Regions from separate parts of the Homo sapiens genome. Here region 1 is linked to region 2. Evidence: fine-mapped expression QTL. Tissue or cell type: whole blood. Region 2 holds a variant in brackets; the other region holds the start of a gene. All regions are shown on one strand. Distances are from middle to middle.

Region 1 (8,108 bases), 31 kb before region 2:
AAGGAAGTTGAAAGTTGTAGGATTGGCCATAACAATTTGGACCTGTGCGTTTAAACTTATTTTCTGTACTTCTAGGGCCAAAGTGGTATAATTTTCTTCTACAAAGGTTAAGGAGAGGCTTGAACTACCTTTTCTTTTTTTTTTGAACTATCCTTTTTAACTGTATTAATGCCATAGTGGGTGTCAAGGGCCCTCATGGTGCATATGAAAAGAGAATCATTGATATCCCTGGGAGGTTTTCCCCAATTCCCTGTAGTTGCCTCAATTTGGAGGTAATTCCAGAAGGACACACCATTGACAGGTGGGATAGCAGCTTTAAATATTTTGAAGTCCCAGACAATCAGTCCAAATGCCCTTGGGGAAGGCATGAAAAGTGGTATCCTATGGGGAAACAGGTGGGGTCTGAGGTATAGTAATTATTAACAATTACTGGGATTAACAACTGGGTAGATCCCTCAGAAGAGCAGAGTCTTTGTGTGGAACTGAACGCAGTTTGTAAGGCTGGTTGGGAAGTGGTGGAAGAGAAAATGGTTATTATTAGGGATAAAAGTGCTCCTACATTTTTTCCTACACTTGATCCTGAAAAAGTGGAGTCATTGAGTTTGGAGATTTCAAGAGACTCATTAATCATGTTAAGAATTAAGTTTCATTTAGTACATGCTGAGAAATTGGGGATAATAGAAGAGTCAAGGGCCATTAGGCATGAGACTCTGGGCAGGTTGAGTTCCTTAAAGAGTTTGGCTAGTTTGAATATAACGGTACCACTGGCCTGCTTGTTTCATTTTCCAGAGGACTGGTAAGGAGACTGCAGTTTTTGTAACATTGGAAGTACTTGTTGAAGATCCTGAATAACCTTACTACTGAAGTGAGTTCCTCCACTGTTATTAAAAAAAACAGAGATCCCTAGGAGGGGAAAATTCTTTCTGGTATCAGGTTAACTTCAGTGGTGATAGTAGCTTGTTTACAGAGAAAAGCTTTTAACCATGCTGAAAACATGCCAACTATGGTTAAAACATATTTGTACCCATAAGACTTTGAGAGTTGATATATTTTCCAATGAAAACAAGGACTAGAGAGAGTTGACTCTCATGCTTGTCCCACTTTACATGTTGACTAGGATTGTGTTTCTGGCAGATGGGGCAAGTTGAAGTTAACTGCTCAGTATTAGGGCATCCCCAACAATATTTGCGGAGAAAGATTTTCTTTGCCATAATGTGTAATCTCATGGAGGCTGCAGAATAAATTTTGGGTGAGGGACCAAGAGAAATCAATGATGTCTAGGTGTCTCCAAAGCCCATCTGAGTAGAAAAAACATCCAGCTTGTTGCTTTTTTGCTTTTTCAGCCTCAGGTGCTAGCAGCTGTTATATCTTAAGTTTCTTAAGAGTTTCTGTCTTTAGAGTAGGTTGAGCAAGGAGAAGTATACACGTGATTCAGGAGGTGTTTTCTTGGGAAGCAGCAACCTTAGCATATTTTCAGCCAGTTAAGTTTCCTTTAGCTTTGTTAGTCCAGCCACTAGTGTGAGCTTTGATTTTTGAGAATGGCTAATTTCTGGATAGCTGTAAGGACTTAAACAGGGGGGCTGGGCGCGGTGGCTCACGCTTGTAATCCCAGCACTTTGGGAGGCCGAGGCGGGTGGATTACCTGAGGTCAGGATTTTGAGACCAGCCTGGCCAACGTGGCGAAACCCCATCTCAACTAAAAGTAAAAAAAAAAAAAAAAAAATTAGCCGGTCATGGTGGTGGGTGTCTGTAATCCTAGCTACTCAGGAGGCTGAGGCAGGAGAATCGCTTGAACCCGGGAGGCGGAGGTTGCAGTGAGCCAAGACCGCGCCACTGCAACTCCAGCCTGGGTGACAAGAGCGAGACTCCATCTCAAAAAAAAAAAAAAAAGACTTAAATAAGTTAGTGAGTTGGGTTCTGAGTGGTACTCCTCAGTTGTCATAAACCTCTTTCTTTCCATAGCATACCAAAATAACGTGCAATTCCAAAAGTAAACTGGCTGTCTCTATAAATGTTAGTTCCCTTATCTTGTGCTAACATGCAAGTTTGGGTGAGTGCTTAAGAATTCAATGATTTGGGCCATGTTAACTTAAGTGGAGATTTCAACTTAATAGGCTGTTGAAAATCTGCAATAGTGTATCCTGCTTAAAATTCCCCATTTGTACTCCTGAGGTAAGAACCATCTACAAAGGTGATATCAAGGTCTCTGAGAGGAGTTCTGGTGATGTCAGAGTGAGGAAATGTGAATGACTGTGTGACGGTGATTCAGTCACAAGGTTGTCCTTCAGAGGGAATGGGAAGAAGAGTGGCTTGATTGTTTTGACTACGGTGGACAGTGATGAGAGAGGAAGACAGTGGCAGGGTTTCACAGGAGGTGAGTCCGAAGCGGAAACGTGTTAGGTGTTCTCAGTGACTTCTAATGTCTGAACTGCACGGGGTAAGTAAAGGTTGAGTGAATGACTAGAAATAAAGTCAGCTCTGATGGAGAGGCAACTTCATACAAGCAAGGGGAGAAATGCTTGAGCCACTGGGTCTAAAAGGATGCTAAATTACCAACCAGGCCTCTGGCTTCCATTGTGTTTTGGGGTGAGGACCCCCTAAAGCATGTCTCTTCTTTTGTGTAAAAAAGGGAAAGGGGTACTGAATATTGGAGAGACCAAGTGGGAGAAGTGGCTACAGAGGACTTCAGGTTTTGAAATGCAGATATGGAAGGAAAGTCTCAAAGTCAGGTGACTGGAGGTGGTCTCCTTTTAGTCATGGCAAATAAGGACAGGCAATTGTGAAAAAGCCAGGGATCTAATTCCAGCGATAGCCAACCAATCCTACAAACCCTGAGTTATCTTTTGGTACCAGGGAGAGGCATAGTGAGTAAAAAAAAAAAAAAAAAAAAAATCACTTCTAATGGATACATACACTAATACAAGATGTTAATAATAAGGGAACTGTGAAGTGGGGAGAGATATATGGAAGTTCCCTGTCCCTGCTGCTCAATTTTTCCGTAAACCTAAAAATAAAATCTAATTTACACACACACACACACACGCCCCTAAAAAGGGATCTCTGCTGGAACTTGCAAGGTTTTCTGTTTTGGGGGGTTTTTTGTTTTCCTACAGGCTCATAATTTCAAATTAGTGGTGCTTCCTTTTTTTTTTTTTAATAAAGGCTGGAAGAAAACTTATCGAACCTTTATAATTCTAAGAACTGAGTAATTATTCTACAAACCAACAAATATTTATTAACAGCGTCCTATAACCAACTCATGTAATCTTCACACAATCCTATGAAATACTACTGTTCACGTCTTACAAAAGAAGAAACAGTTCAAAGAGACAAGTCAAACAATACATACTAGAACGAGGCGACTACTCTGGATTCCAAAACCACAGTTCCAAACCACAAAATCGAATCTAGGAAAATTGGCGCTCTCGAGTGTCGTCAGCTAAAACAAGGAACACCAGAGAAGGATCGCGATATTACACAAACTACTACTCCCGACATGCAAAGCGGATTCTTTCCCTCGGTCTCGGCCCGGGAGTCCGAGAGTCCCAGCAGCCCTCGGGGCGCGAAAGGCAACCTGGGAGCGGTAGTTCTCCTGGGCGCCTAGCATTGTCGCCCACGCTGCAGTAGCGGCTTCTGCGGCTCCAAGCCAGCGGGTCCTGTGAAGGCGAGCAGACGCGGAGAAAGGACGCGGGAGTGAGAGAGGGTGAGTCAGCCACTGTCTAAACGATAACGGGAGGCGGTTCTGCGGGGTAGGGTTGAATTCAGTAAATGGGCTCGTGCTGCTGTCTCTTCGGAGACGCTGCTATCTTAGCGTCAGCGAGGGAAGGTTGAGGAGGAGCCAGAGCCGGGTCCTGCAGCGTTTCTCGCCATCAGCGCCCGTCGCCATCTCCACCATGCAGTCCCGGGAAGACGCCCCGCGCTCTCGCCGCCTAGCCAGTCCCCGTGGTGGGAAGCGGCCCAAGAAGATTCACAAACCCACAGTTTCGGCCTTTTTCACGGGTCCAGAGGAATTAAAGGACACGGCCCATTCTGCAGCCCTGCTGGCACAGCTCAAGTCCTTCTACGATGCGCGGCTGCTGTGTGATGTGACCATCGAGGTGGTGACGCCTGGCAGCGGGCCTGGCACGGGTCGCCTGTTCCCCTGCAACCGCAATGTGCTGGCCGCGGCATGTCCCTACTTCAAGAGCATGTTCACAGGTGGCATGTACGAGAGCCAGCAGGCCAGCGTGACCATGCACGATGTGGACGCCGAGTCCTTCGAGGTGTTGGTCGACTACTGCTACACGGGTCGTGTGTCTCTCAGTGAGGCCAACGTGGAGCGCCTGTACGCGGCCTCCGACATGCTACAGCTGGAATATGTGCGGGAAGCCTGTGCCTCCTTCTTAGCCCGACGTCTTGACCTGACCAACTGCACCGCCATCCTCAAGTTTGCAGATGCCTTTGGCCATCGCAAGCTGCGATCCCAGGCCCAGTCCTATATAGCTCAGAACTTCAAGCAACTCAGCCACATGGGTTCAATTCGGGAGGAGACTCTAGCAGATCTGACCCTGGCCCAGCTGCTGGCTGTCCTGCGCTTGGATAGTCTGGACGTGGAGAGTGAGCAGACAGTGTGCCATGTGGCAGTGCAGTGGCTGGAGGCTGCTCCCAAAGAGCGGGGTCCCAGTGCTGCAGAAGTCTTCAAGTGCGTGCGCTGGATGCACTTCACTGAAGAAGATCAGGACTACTTAGAAGGGCTGCTGACCAAGCCCATCGTGAAGAAGTACTGCCTGGACGTTATTGAAGGGGCCCTGCAGATGCGCTATGGTGACCTGTTGTACAAGTCTCTGGTGCCAGTGCCAAACAGCAGCAGCAGCAGTAGCAGCAGCAACTCTCTTGTATCTGCAGCAGAAAATCCACCCCAGAGACTGGGTATGTGTGCCAAGGAGATGGTGATCTTCTTTGGACACCCCAGAGATCCCTTTCTCTGCTGTGATCCATACTCGGGGGACCTTTACAAAGTGCCGTCACCTTTGACCTGTCTGGCTCACACTAGGACTGTCACCACTTTAGCTGTCTGTATCTCTCCTGACCATGACATCTATCTAGCTGCTCAGCCCAGGACAGACCTCTGGGTGTATAAACCAGCTCAGAATAGTTGGCAGCAACTTGCAGATCGCTTGCTGTGTCGTGAGGGCATGGATGTGGCATATCTCAATGGCTATATCTACATTTTGGGGGGGCGAGACCCTATTACTGGAGTTAAGTTGAAGGAAGTGGAATGCTACAATGTTAAGAGAAACCAGTGGGCATTGGTGGCTCCACTGCCCCATTCTTTTTTATCCTTTGACCTAATGGTAATTCGAGACTATCTCTATGCTCTCAACAGTAAGCGCATGTTCTGTTATGATCCTAGCCACAATATGTGGCTGAAGTGCGTTTCTCTGAAGCGCAATGACTTTCAGGAAGCCTGCGTCTTCAATGAGGAGATCTATTGTATCTGTGATATCCCAGTCATGAAGGTCTACAACCCAGTTAGGGCAGAATGGAGGCAAATGAATAATATTCCCTTGGTCTCAGAGACCAACAACTACAGAATTATCAAGCATGGCCAAAAATTGTTGCTCATCACCTCTCGCACCCCACAGTGGAAAAAGAACCGGGTGACTGTGTATGAATATGATATTAGGGGAGACCAATGGATTAATATAGGTACCACATTAGGCCTCTTGCAGTTTGATTCTAACTTTTTTTGCCTCTCTGCTCGTGTTTATCCTTCCTGCCTTGAACCTGGTCAGAGTTTCCTCACTGAAGAAGAAGAAATACCAAGTGAGTCTAGCACTGAATGGGACTTAGGTGGATTCAGTGAGCCAGACTCTGAGTCAGGAAGTTCAAGTTCTCTTTCTGATGATGATTTTTGGGTGCGTGTAGCGCCTCAGTGAAATGCACAGGATCAACAGGGTTTGTTGTAACTAGATTGAAACACTAAGTTGTTTTTACTGTTTTGGAAAATATCTTAAATATCCTTTTTGTTCCTAAAGGAGAGGAAAAGTTGATTAACTTCTGGTTTGGTTTAGAAAAAGTAATGTTTGAAATACGAAGGTAATTTAATGTTACAAATTTTAACACTCAAATCAACCTTTTAATAATTTTCTGTGCTAAGGGTCCAGTATTTATTTGATTATTTAGTATGTTTATGTTTCATGACACTAATTTAGTCTTTTGATACATTTTACATTCTGTTTACTGCCACAAGCACTGTGGCAATAACTTTTGAATTTTAATTTTTATAATAGAAAAATGATTAGGAATTGCTAGATAGTGTTTTGAAAGCATATCTTTTTCTTCAGAACAATGTAGACTTCCAAAATGGTTAACCTAAGGGGTCTTTACAAAATGTGTTATAAGTTAAACATAATTTGGGAAGTTTTACTTTTGTTTTCTTCTATGAAGAAAAAAATGCAGGCTGGGCGCGGTGGCTCACGCCTGTAATCCTAGCACTTTGGGAGGCCGAGGCAGGTGGATCACCTGAGGTCAGTTCAAGACCAGCCTGGCCAACATGGTGAAACCCCGTCTCTACTAAAAATACAAAAATTAGCTGGGCGTGGTGGCATGCGCCTGTAATCCCAGCTACCCAGGAGGCTGAGGCAGGAGAATTGCTGAAACCCGGGAGTCAGAGGCTGCAGAGAGCCGAGACTGGGCCACTGCACTCCAGCCTGGATGACAGAGTGAGACTCCGTCTCAAAAAAAAAAAAAAAAAAAAAAGGAAAAAAAAAAAAGAAAAAAAACCATATGTGTATTAGGGTGACTGAGTGGTGACTTCATTTATAATAATACAGAGAATAGCTATAAGCTCATTGACAGTAAAAACAACAAACCAGGATTCTACTGTTTGAAAAGAAGTTTCGTTTTAATTTTGGAATTTAGAATGTGTATTTGCAAAGTCACCAATTTTCATCTAAAAGGTTATATTCTAGTTGTGTCACCAAATCATCAAAAAACCTTAAAAAAGAAGTAACTTGCTTTGTAGGTTTGTATTGTTGATCTAAACCTGATACATGCTTCATTTAATCAGGAATAATCCTTTTTTTTCTGCTGGACATGTATAAATTTCACTGGATTGTATAAATTTTTATCTATTGCCTTAAACATTTACATGATTCTCAATATGTTTTAGCTGTACAGTTTTGGTGTTCATCTTAGAGGATTCTTCAGCAGAAGTGATATTTCTTTACTGTTTTGTGAGGTAATACTGATTTTGAAAATATATATAAGCTAAAAACAGTATTTCGTTGATATCAGTAGTCATTGTGTTAACTATAAAGTCAAGTGCCAGCAAAGAACTTTAAAACTGTAAAGCTGTGTATAGAACTGTTTTGTGTAGCATGGAAATATTCTGTCAGCTTTTTAAAGTCACTAAATGTTCTTGATTATCAGCTTGAAGGTATTTTTGTATTACAAGTTGACAGTTGCTGGGTGTAGTGGCTCATGCCTGTAATCCTAGCAACTCGGGGCTGAGGTGGGAGGATTGCTTCAGCCCAGGAGTTTGAGACCAGCCTGGGCAACATAGCAAAACCCCATCTCTACAAAAATAAAAAATATGTCTGGGCATGGTGGCCCAAGTCTGAGTCCCAGTTACTTGGGAGGATCACTTGAATGTAGGATCACTTGAGTCTAGGAGTTCGGGGCTGCAGCTATCATCTGCAGCTATAATCATAGCTCACTGCAGCTATGATCATGTCTCAGCACTCCAGCTTTGGCAACAGAACGAGATCCCATCTCTTAGAAAAACAAAGTTGATAGTTAAAGAACATAAGTGGATGATGGCATTTGAGGCCACTAGTGAAAGTATGTTTTCTCTAAAATATTTCTCTAATAGTGATATAAATGGCTATTTTATTATGATGTTTGTATGTGTTTTGTATTTCTCTGTAAACCATGCTCCAGTCTTTGTTTTTCTGTTACCATAATGTAAGAGAAGGTCCTGGAACAGAGACTAAATCCCACGAAACTGACATTGTTAAACACACTAAAACAGAAGTACTTACCTCTTGAAGATTTAATATATAATGGTTGACATGATACATGTACATGATGAATGACCAGATGCTTATGGTCTACATTTTCCTTTA
Region 2 (8,109 bases):
CAGGCACTCCTGGCAGAGAGGCTGTGGAAATGAGTTGTGAACACGTGTGGTCTTTTCCAGGATTTTGAATCTCAACAAGTGACACAAAGAAGCAAGGTATTTAGAATTCATTCTGGTGGTGGCAGCAGTAGTAACATCCATGTTCTGGAGCTGCATTAGAAGTGTATTAACAAATTAACAATAATTTTTTTTTTTTTTTTTTTTTGGAGACAGAGTCTCACTCTGTTGCCCAGGCTATAGTGCAGTGGCACAATCTCAGCTCACTACAACCTACACCTCCCAGGTTCAAGCGATTCTCCTGCCTCAGCGCCCCTAGTAGCTGAGATTACAGGCATGTGCCACCACACCCAACTAGATTTTGTATTTTTAGTATAGATGGGGTTTCACCATGTTGGCCAGGCTGGTCTCGAACCACTGACCTCAAGTGATCATCCACACACCTTGGCCTCCCAAAGTGCTGGGATTATAGGCGTGAACCACCATGCCTGGCCAATTAACAAGAATCTTTAATGTGACTTTTTACTGATGTTTCAAATTGGTATTAAAGTTGGTTCAAAATCCAAAGCATATAAAGAATATACAGTAAAAGGTCTCTCCTGTCCATCTTATCCCTGTTTTTCCTTTTTTTTTTTAGACGGAGTCTCACTCTGTTGTCCAGGCTGGAGTACAGTGGCGTGATCTCAGCTCACTGCAACCTCTACCTCCCTGGTTCAAGCGACTCTTCTGCCTCAGCCTCCTGAGTAGCTGGGACTACAGGCACACACCATCACACCCAGCTACTTTTTCTATTTTTAGTAGAGATGGGGTTTCTGGCCAGGCTGGTCTCAAACTCCTGACCTCGTGATCCACCTGCCTCGGCCTCCCAAAGTGCTGGGATTACAGGTGTGAGCCACCGTGCCTGGTCCCCCGTTTCTTAAACACCTTATGATAGTTAATATTACGCATCAGCTTAATTGAATTAAGGAATACCTAGAGTACTGGTAAAGCATTATTTCTGGGTGTTTCCAGAGGAGATTGGCAGCTAAATCTGATTGAATTGGAAGATCTCCCCTCAATGTGGGCAGACACAGTCCAATTAGCCAGATGGGAAAAAAAGGCAGAAGAAGGGCAATTTCCGCTCTCTGCTAAAGCTGAGATGCTCTGCTCTGGTCCTTGGACATCAGAACTCCAGGCTCTTTGGACTCCAGGACTGATGCAGGCAGTCCCCTGCCTTCTCAGGCTGAGAGTTGAGTTACACCATCAGTTCCCCTGGTTTGAGACATTTAGACTTGGACTGAGCCACATGACCAGGATCCCAGACTTTCCAGCTGCAGTGGGACTTCACAGCCTCCATAATCTCATGAGCCAGTTCCCCTAATAAGGGGAGTTCCCTAATAAGCCAGTTCCACTCATCTATCTATCTATCTATCTATCTATCTATCTATCTATCTATCCATCCATCAATCATCTGTGTGTCTATCTACCTATCCATCTATCCAGCCATCTTATTGGTTCTGTCTCTCTGGAAGTCCTTGATGAATATACTCCTAGTTTTCTTTTCCAGTGTTATCAATTTTGTGTGTATCCTTTCAGGCTTATTTTATGCATATATATGACAGTACACATATCTTTTCTGCCCATGTTTTGTTTTACTAAAATTGCAGCATACTATATGTCAACAGAAAAAACCACTGGGTGCAGTGGCTCACACCTGTAATCCCAGCACTTTGGGAGGCCGAGATGGTCGAATTGCTTGAGCTCATGAGTTCAAGACCAGCCTGGGCAACATGGAGAAACCCCATCTCTACAAAAAAATACTAAAATTAGCCTGGCATGGTGGCACGTGCCTGTAGTCCCAGCTACTTGGGAGGCTGAGGTGGGAGGATGGCCTGCACCTAGGAGGCAGAGGTTGCAGTGAGCCAAGATGGCACCACTGCACTCCAGCCTGGGGTATAAAGCCAGACCTAAAATCAAACAAACAAACTGTAAAATATTGTATTTTATTTTTGGGAGTCAGAATCTCACTGTCACCCAGGCTGGAGTACAGTGGCATGATCATGGCTCACTGCAGCCTCAGACTGTCAGACTCCTGGGCTCACATGACCCTCCCACCTCAGCCTCCTGTAGCTGGGACTACTGACACACACCACCACACCAGCCTAATTTTTAATTTTTTTTTTTTTTTTTTTTTTTTAGACAGAGTGTCACTCTGTCACCCAGGCTGGAGTACAGTGGTGTGATCTTGGCTCACTGCAACCTCTGCCTCCTGGGTTCAAGCGATTCTTCTGCCTCGGCCTCCCGAGTAGCTGGGACTACAGGCATGTGCCACCACACCCAGCTTATTTTTATATTTTTAGTAGAGACGGGGTTTCACCATATTGGCCAGGCTGGTCTTGAACTCTGACCTTGTGATCTGCCCACTTCAGCCTCCCAAAGTGCTGGGATTACAGGCATGAGCCACCGTGCCTGGCTTATGTGTGTGTGTGTGTGTATATATATATAATGTGTATATATATATTATATATATATTTATATATATATATATAAAATATATATATAATGTGTATATATATATTTTATATATATATATAAATATATATATAATATATATATACACATTATATATATATACACACACACACTAAAATATATATATATATATATTTTTTTTAAGAGATGGAGTCTCACTATGTTGCCTAGGCTGGTCTCAAATTCCTGGGCTCAAGCAATTCCCCCACCTTGGCCTCCCAAAGTGCTGGGATCATAGGCTTGATCCACCATGCCTGGCCCTGTGAAGTATTTTAAGGTTTATTCTGAGCCAGTATGAGTGATGGAGGCCCAGGGAAAACACAAACCCAAGAAGCCTTGAGTAAGTGGTCCTGAGGCAGTCAGAATGTAACTTTGTCTATGGCGGTGAGTGGTGGCTCAAGCCTATACTCCCAGCGCTATGGGAGGCCTAGGGAGGCGGATCACTTGAGATCAGGAGTTCAAGAATGTAACTTTGTTTTATACATTTTAGGGAAGCAAAAGTTACAGCCAAAACCGTAAATCAATACATGGAGGTTATACACTAGTTTAGCCCGAAAACATGAGATATCTTGAAGCAGGGGCTTACAGGTCACAGTGGGTTCAGAGATTTTTTAAATTTGCAGTGGGTTAAAGGAACAAAGCTTTGTCTAAAAACTTGGAGTTAGCAGAAAGGAATGTTGAAATTGGGATAAGGATGCTGTGTCAGAGTCCGGTTGTGAGAGCAAGCTTCAATATACTGGGTCAAAATGACCTACTTATCAAGACAGATGGCCTGCAGGTGTGACCTAACCCTTGCCTTGCATGGCTTTAGGTCCTGTTTATAATTTGGTATTTTATTGCCACAGAGTTTGTTCTGTCAGTCTTTTGATTTCTATTGTAACATTATTGCTAGTCAGTTGTGCCTAAATTCCAAAAGGGAGGGGATGTCTTGAGGCCTTTCTGACCTCCTTTCCTGTCATGGCCAGGAACTAATTTTTAAGATTTCTCTGGTGTCTTCTTGGCTAAGAGGGGGTCCATTTAGTCATTTGAGGGCTTATAGTTTTGTTTTTCATTTACATGTGTGTATTTTTGTACGTATGTAAAATACATATATATTTTACGTATATAAACTGCTTCTAATGCTATGTAGCATGTCCCATATGAGTACATCAAGGACCTGCTCACTCTTTTTTTTTTATCTTCAGAGTAGACATTGTAAAAATGTATCATAATCCACTAAGTTTCCATTGGTGGACATTTAAGTGACTTATAATCTTTTGCCATTACAAACAGTGCTGTTGTGAATACTCTTCTACTTACATTATTTCACTTCTATGCCAAAATATTTTTAGAAGCAATTTCTCAAAAGGTGTGTACATTTGGCATTTGGAATTTTGACAAGGTATTACAGAAGTGCCTTCTGGAGAAGTTATGCCCATTTATGCTACACCAGCAATATATAATGGTGCCATTTCACCCATCCCTCCTAGAAATGTGTTATCAGACTTATTGATATTTGCACTGACTTGAGTTTTGCTTTAGTTCTGGCTGCCAGAGAAATATTTGTTCTTTCACATTTTCTGAACTGGTTGTTTGCCCTTCCAATCAATTTTGCATGTGGCGTCCTTTCAACAAATTCTTTTTTTTTTTTTTTTAGAAATAGGGTCTCTCACAGAGAAACACACATACGAACTAATGTGTAAATGTTTTTGTTCCTCCTCATTGATGACAAAATGATGGAATAATGCTTAAAGATCATGAGTTCTACAGTCAGACAGCCTGAGTTGGAGGCTCATCTTCACTTCTTGCTGTGTGACCCTGGGCCAGTGACTTAACTTCTCTATGCCATTTTCTTATCTGCAAAAGGAGGGTAATACTAGTATCTGTCTCATAGGGTTGTAGTAAATTGATTATTAATTGCTATATGAATATTCATGGAAAACTTATAAATAGTTCATATTTCTTTTAGCAGACAGTTTTGACATGGACATATGTTTTTGACATGGACATATGTTCTCATGATTCTCATATTGTGTACATAT[A/T]ATGTAGTCTTGTGAATTAAGCAGATGTTTCTCAAGGGACACCATAACACTTAGAGGCTCTGTCATTTGAATAAATTTGAGCCCACCAATGTAAAACATGCAGAAAATCTTGAGTCGTATGTTCAGTCTCTGTTCTGTATCTTGCCACGTTTTGACCTCATGCAAGTTGCCTAATATTTCAATCTCAAATTTTTAATCTGTAAAATGAGTTACTTATATTTATGTAACTTCTAGAATTTTTCAGTGCTCAAATAAAATATTACAAAATATGAAGCCAAAAAAAGAGGGAAAGAAACAGGGTCTCATTCTGTCTCTGAGGCTGAAGTGCAGTGGCACGATCATAGCTCACTGCAGTCTCCAACACCTGGGGTCAAGCAATCCTCCTGCCTCAGCCTTCCAGTAGCCAGGACCACAAGCACACACTGCCACATCTAGCTAATTTTTTTTTTGTAGTGACAAGGTATCAATATTTTGCCCAGGGTGGCATCAAACTCCTGGCCTCAAGCAGTCCTCTTATTAGGGAAGCAGGAGCCTAGGAGAGCCAGTGACACCATTGAAAAATCAACCCCATCTTAAAACTAGCAAGGCACATTCCTTGCCAGTGACAACCCATGGTCCTGATATGTTTACAATTAAGAAAGCAGCTTGATAATGCCTGTAAGGACAAACTCCTACAACAACAGAAAGTCCAGATGTCCTGATCCCCATAACAATGTATCCTTTCACATAATTATAGTTATGCTTTAATGTACTTACACACCAAAAGGTCAAGCATAGTTTTCATTAAATCAGTAAAATAATAAATTTTGTCATGCTGTCTGCCCGTCTGCACATAGATACAACTGAGCTTAGTCTTTACATTGACAAGAACCCTATATAAGAAAAACGTGGCTGGATGGCCAGGCGTGGTGGCTCATGATTGTAATCCCAGCACTTTGGGAGGCCAAGGAGGGTGGATCACTAGATGTCAGGGGTTCCAGGCCACCCTGGCCAACATGGTGAAACCCCTTCTCTACTAAAAAAATACAAAAAAGGCTGGGCACGGTGGTTCACGCCTATAATCCCAGCACTTTGGGAGGCCAAGGTGGGCAGATCACGAGGTCAGGAGATCGAGACCATCCTGGCTAACACGGTGAAACCCCGTCTCTACTAAAAATATAAAAAAAAAAATTAGCCGGGTGTAGTGGCAGGCGCCTGTAGTCCCAGCTACTCGGGAGGCTGAGACAGGAGAATGGCGTGAACCTGAGAGACGGAGCTGGTAGTGTGCCGAGATCGCGCCACTGCACTCCAGCCTGGGCGACAGAGCAAGACTCCGTCTCAAAAACAACAAAAAATATATATATATACATATATATATATGTATATATATGCATGTGTTTGTATATATATATTTGTGTATATATATATATATATACACAAAAAAATTAGCTGGGCGTTGTGGTGCACTCTTATAGTCCCAGCTCCTCGTGAGGCAGAGGCAAGAGAATTGCTTGAGCTTGGGAGGCGGAGTTTGCAGTGAGCCAAGATCATGCCACTGCACTCCAGCCTGGGCGTCAGGGCAGGACTCTGTGTGAAAACAAAACAAAACAAAACTTGTGACTCTGTGTAAAAAAAAAAGCAAAAAACAAAAAAAAAACAAAAACTTGTGATTCCAGCACTTTGGTAGGCCTCCACCCACCTAACAATTGTTTGGGACACCCAACAGTTCTGGATTAACTTCATTTATCCAAATTGCACTAATTCCATTAGCATATTATGGCAACAGCATTCCTGGAGACATCAGAATTGGCCACCCAAAAGACTAGAATGCAACCTCATTGGAAAAATTGAAGCTGCGCTAGGTATACTGGGGCAAGGTGAGTTTATAGCTAATGTAATGTAGGAATGTAGAGAGGCATTCCTTAGAGAAAAATTCCATGTAAAAAATAGGCCACATAAAAGGAATGCTATTCCAAGACAAGGGAAAAGGATGGGAAGTTGCCTTAAAAGATAATCTAGTACTCATCAAATGGATAGAAGAAACCAGACCAAACATGAAAACTTACTCCTAAATGCAAAGGTGGGAACAATCATGTACTCTAACCCAAAAGGGCTCATGTCTATGTTTTTACAAGTGGAATCTTAGGTAGCTATGAATCAGTGACCTGCAATCCTCAGTGCTAAGGCACAATCCAAACACCTATAGAGAGTATGTGGTCCCTCAAATGTATGGAAATTTTTGGATGGTAAATGTGACCTCAAATACTACATTCTCAAAGCACAGGCACCAAAGTTGAATGAGGCTCAAAAGTATTCTGTTGTCTAAGTGGCAGGCATTGGGACTGTTGTAAACAATACAAGACTACTCCTCATGGGAAACAGGTGGACTATTTTAGCTAACGATAATGTTACTGGTTGGTATCTGAGTTATCAGCAGTAAATCCCTATGCGGCTACAGCAACCTCAATCTTACCTCCTCAGAAGAAAGCATTCAACTGAGAGGCATAAGGCAGAAAAAGAGACAGGCAAGTTTCAGAGCAGGAGTGGAAGTTTATTTTAAAAGGCTTTAGAAGGTGAAAGCATTCCCTTTGAAAACCAGCACAAGACAAGGATGCCCTCTCTTACCACTCCTATTCAACATAGTATTAGAAGTCATGGCCAGGGCAATCATGCAAGAGGAATAAATAAAGGGTATTCAAATAGGAAGAGAGGAAGTCAAATTATCTTTGTTTGCAGATGACATGATCTTATATCTAGAAAGCCCCATAGTCTCAGCCCAAAAGCTTCTTAAGCTGCTAAACAACTTCAACAAAGTCTCAGGATATAAAATTAATGTACAAAAATCACTAGCATTCCTACACGCCAACAACAGGCAAGCAGAGAGCCAAATCATGAATGAACTCCCATTCGCAATTGCTACAAAAAGAATAAAATACCTAGGAATACAGCTAACAAGGAAGTGAAGAACCTCTTTGAGGAGAACTACAAACCACTGCTCAGATAAATCAGAGGGAATAAAAACAAATGGAGAAAAATTCCATGCTCATGGATAGGAAGAATCAATATGAAAATGGCCATAAGCTCCAAGTAATTTATAGATTCAATGCTATTCCCATTAAACTACCATTGACATTCTTCACAGAATTAGAAAAAACTATTTTAAAATTCATATGGAACCAAAAAAAAAAAAGCCTGAATAACCAAGCCAATCCTAAGCAAAAAGAACAAAGCTGGAGCATTATGCTACCTGATTTCAAACTATGCTACAAGGCTACAGTAACCAAAGCAGCATGGTACTGGTACAAGAACAGACAGGTCAATGGAACAGAATAGAGAACCCAGAAATAAGACCACACACCTACAGCAATCTGATCTTCAACAATCCTGACCAAAACAAGCAATGGGAAAGGATTCCCTATTTAATAAATGGTACTGGGAGAACTGGCTAGCCATATGCAGAAAATTGAAACTGGAACCCTTCCTTACACCATATACAAAAATTAACTCACGACAGATTAAAGACTTAAATGTAAAACCCAAAACTATAAAAACCCTAGAAAAAAATCTAGGCAACATCATTCAGGATATAGGCATGGGAAAA

What was found. PIP is the estimated chance that this variant, and not a neighbour inherited with it, causes the effect.
Region 1: KBTBD6-DT starts here. The variant in region 2 is fine-mapped to the expression of KBTBD6-DT in whole blood (TOPMed, PIP above 0.99).

Annotation. Positions count from the first base shown.
Region 1 is chr13:41,128,297-41,136,404 of GRCh38, reverse strand. It overlaps KBTBD6-DT (KBTBD6 divergent transcript), which reads right to left and starts at 3,477. Exons shown (of 4, transcript NR_120423.1): 1 at 3,350-3,477. KBTBD6 (kelch repeat and BTB domain containing 6) reads left to right here and starts at 3,603. Exons shown (of 1, transcript NM_152903.5): 1 at 3,603-8,108. The coding sequence starts at 3,894. The coding sequence ends at 5,918. RefSeq lists enhancers at 3,301-3,540, 3,901-3,950.
Region 2 is chr13:41,097,230-41,105,338 of GRCh38, reverse strand. It overlaps MIR3168 (microRNA 3168), which reads left to right and starts at 4,239; the gene lies at 4,239-4,320. The variant A/T (reference allele first, on the strand shown) is at 4,530.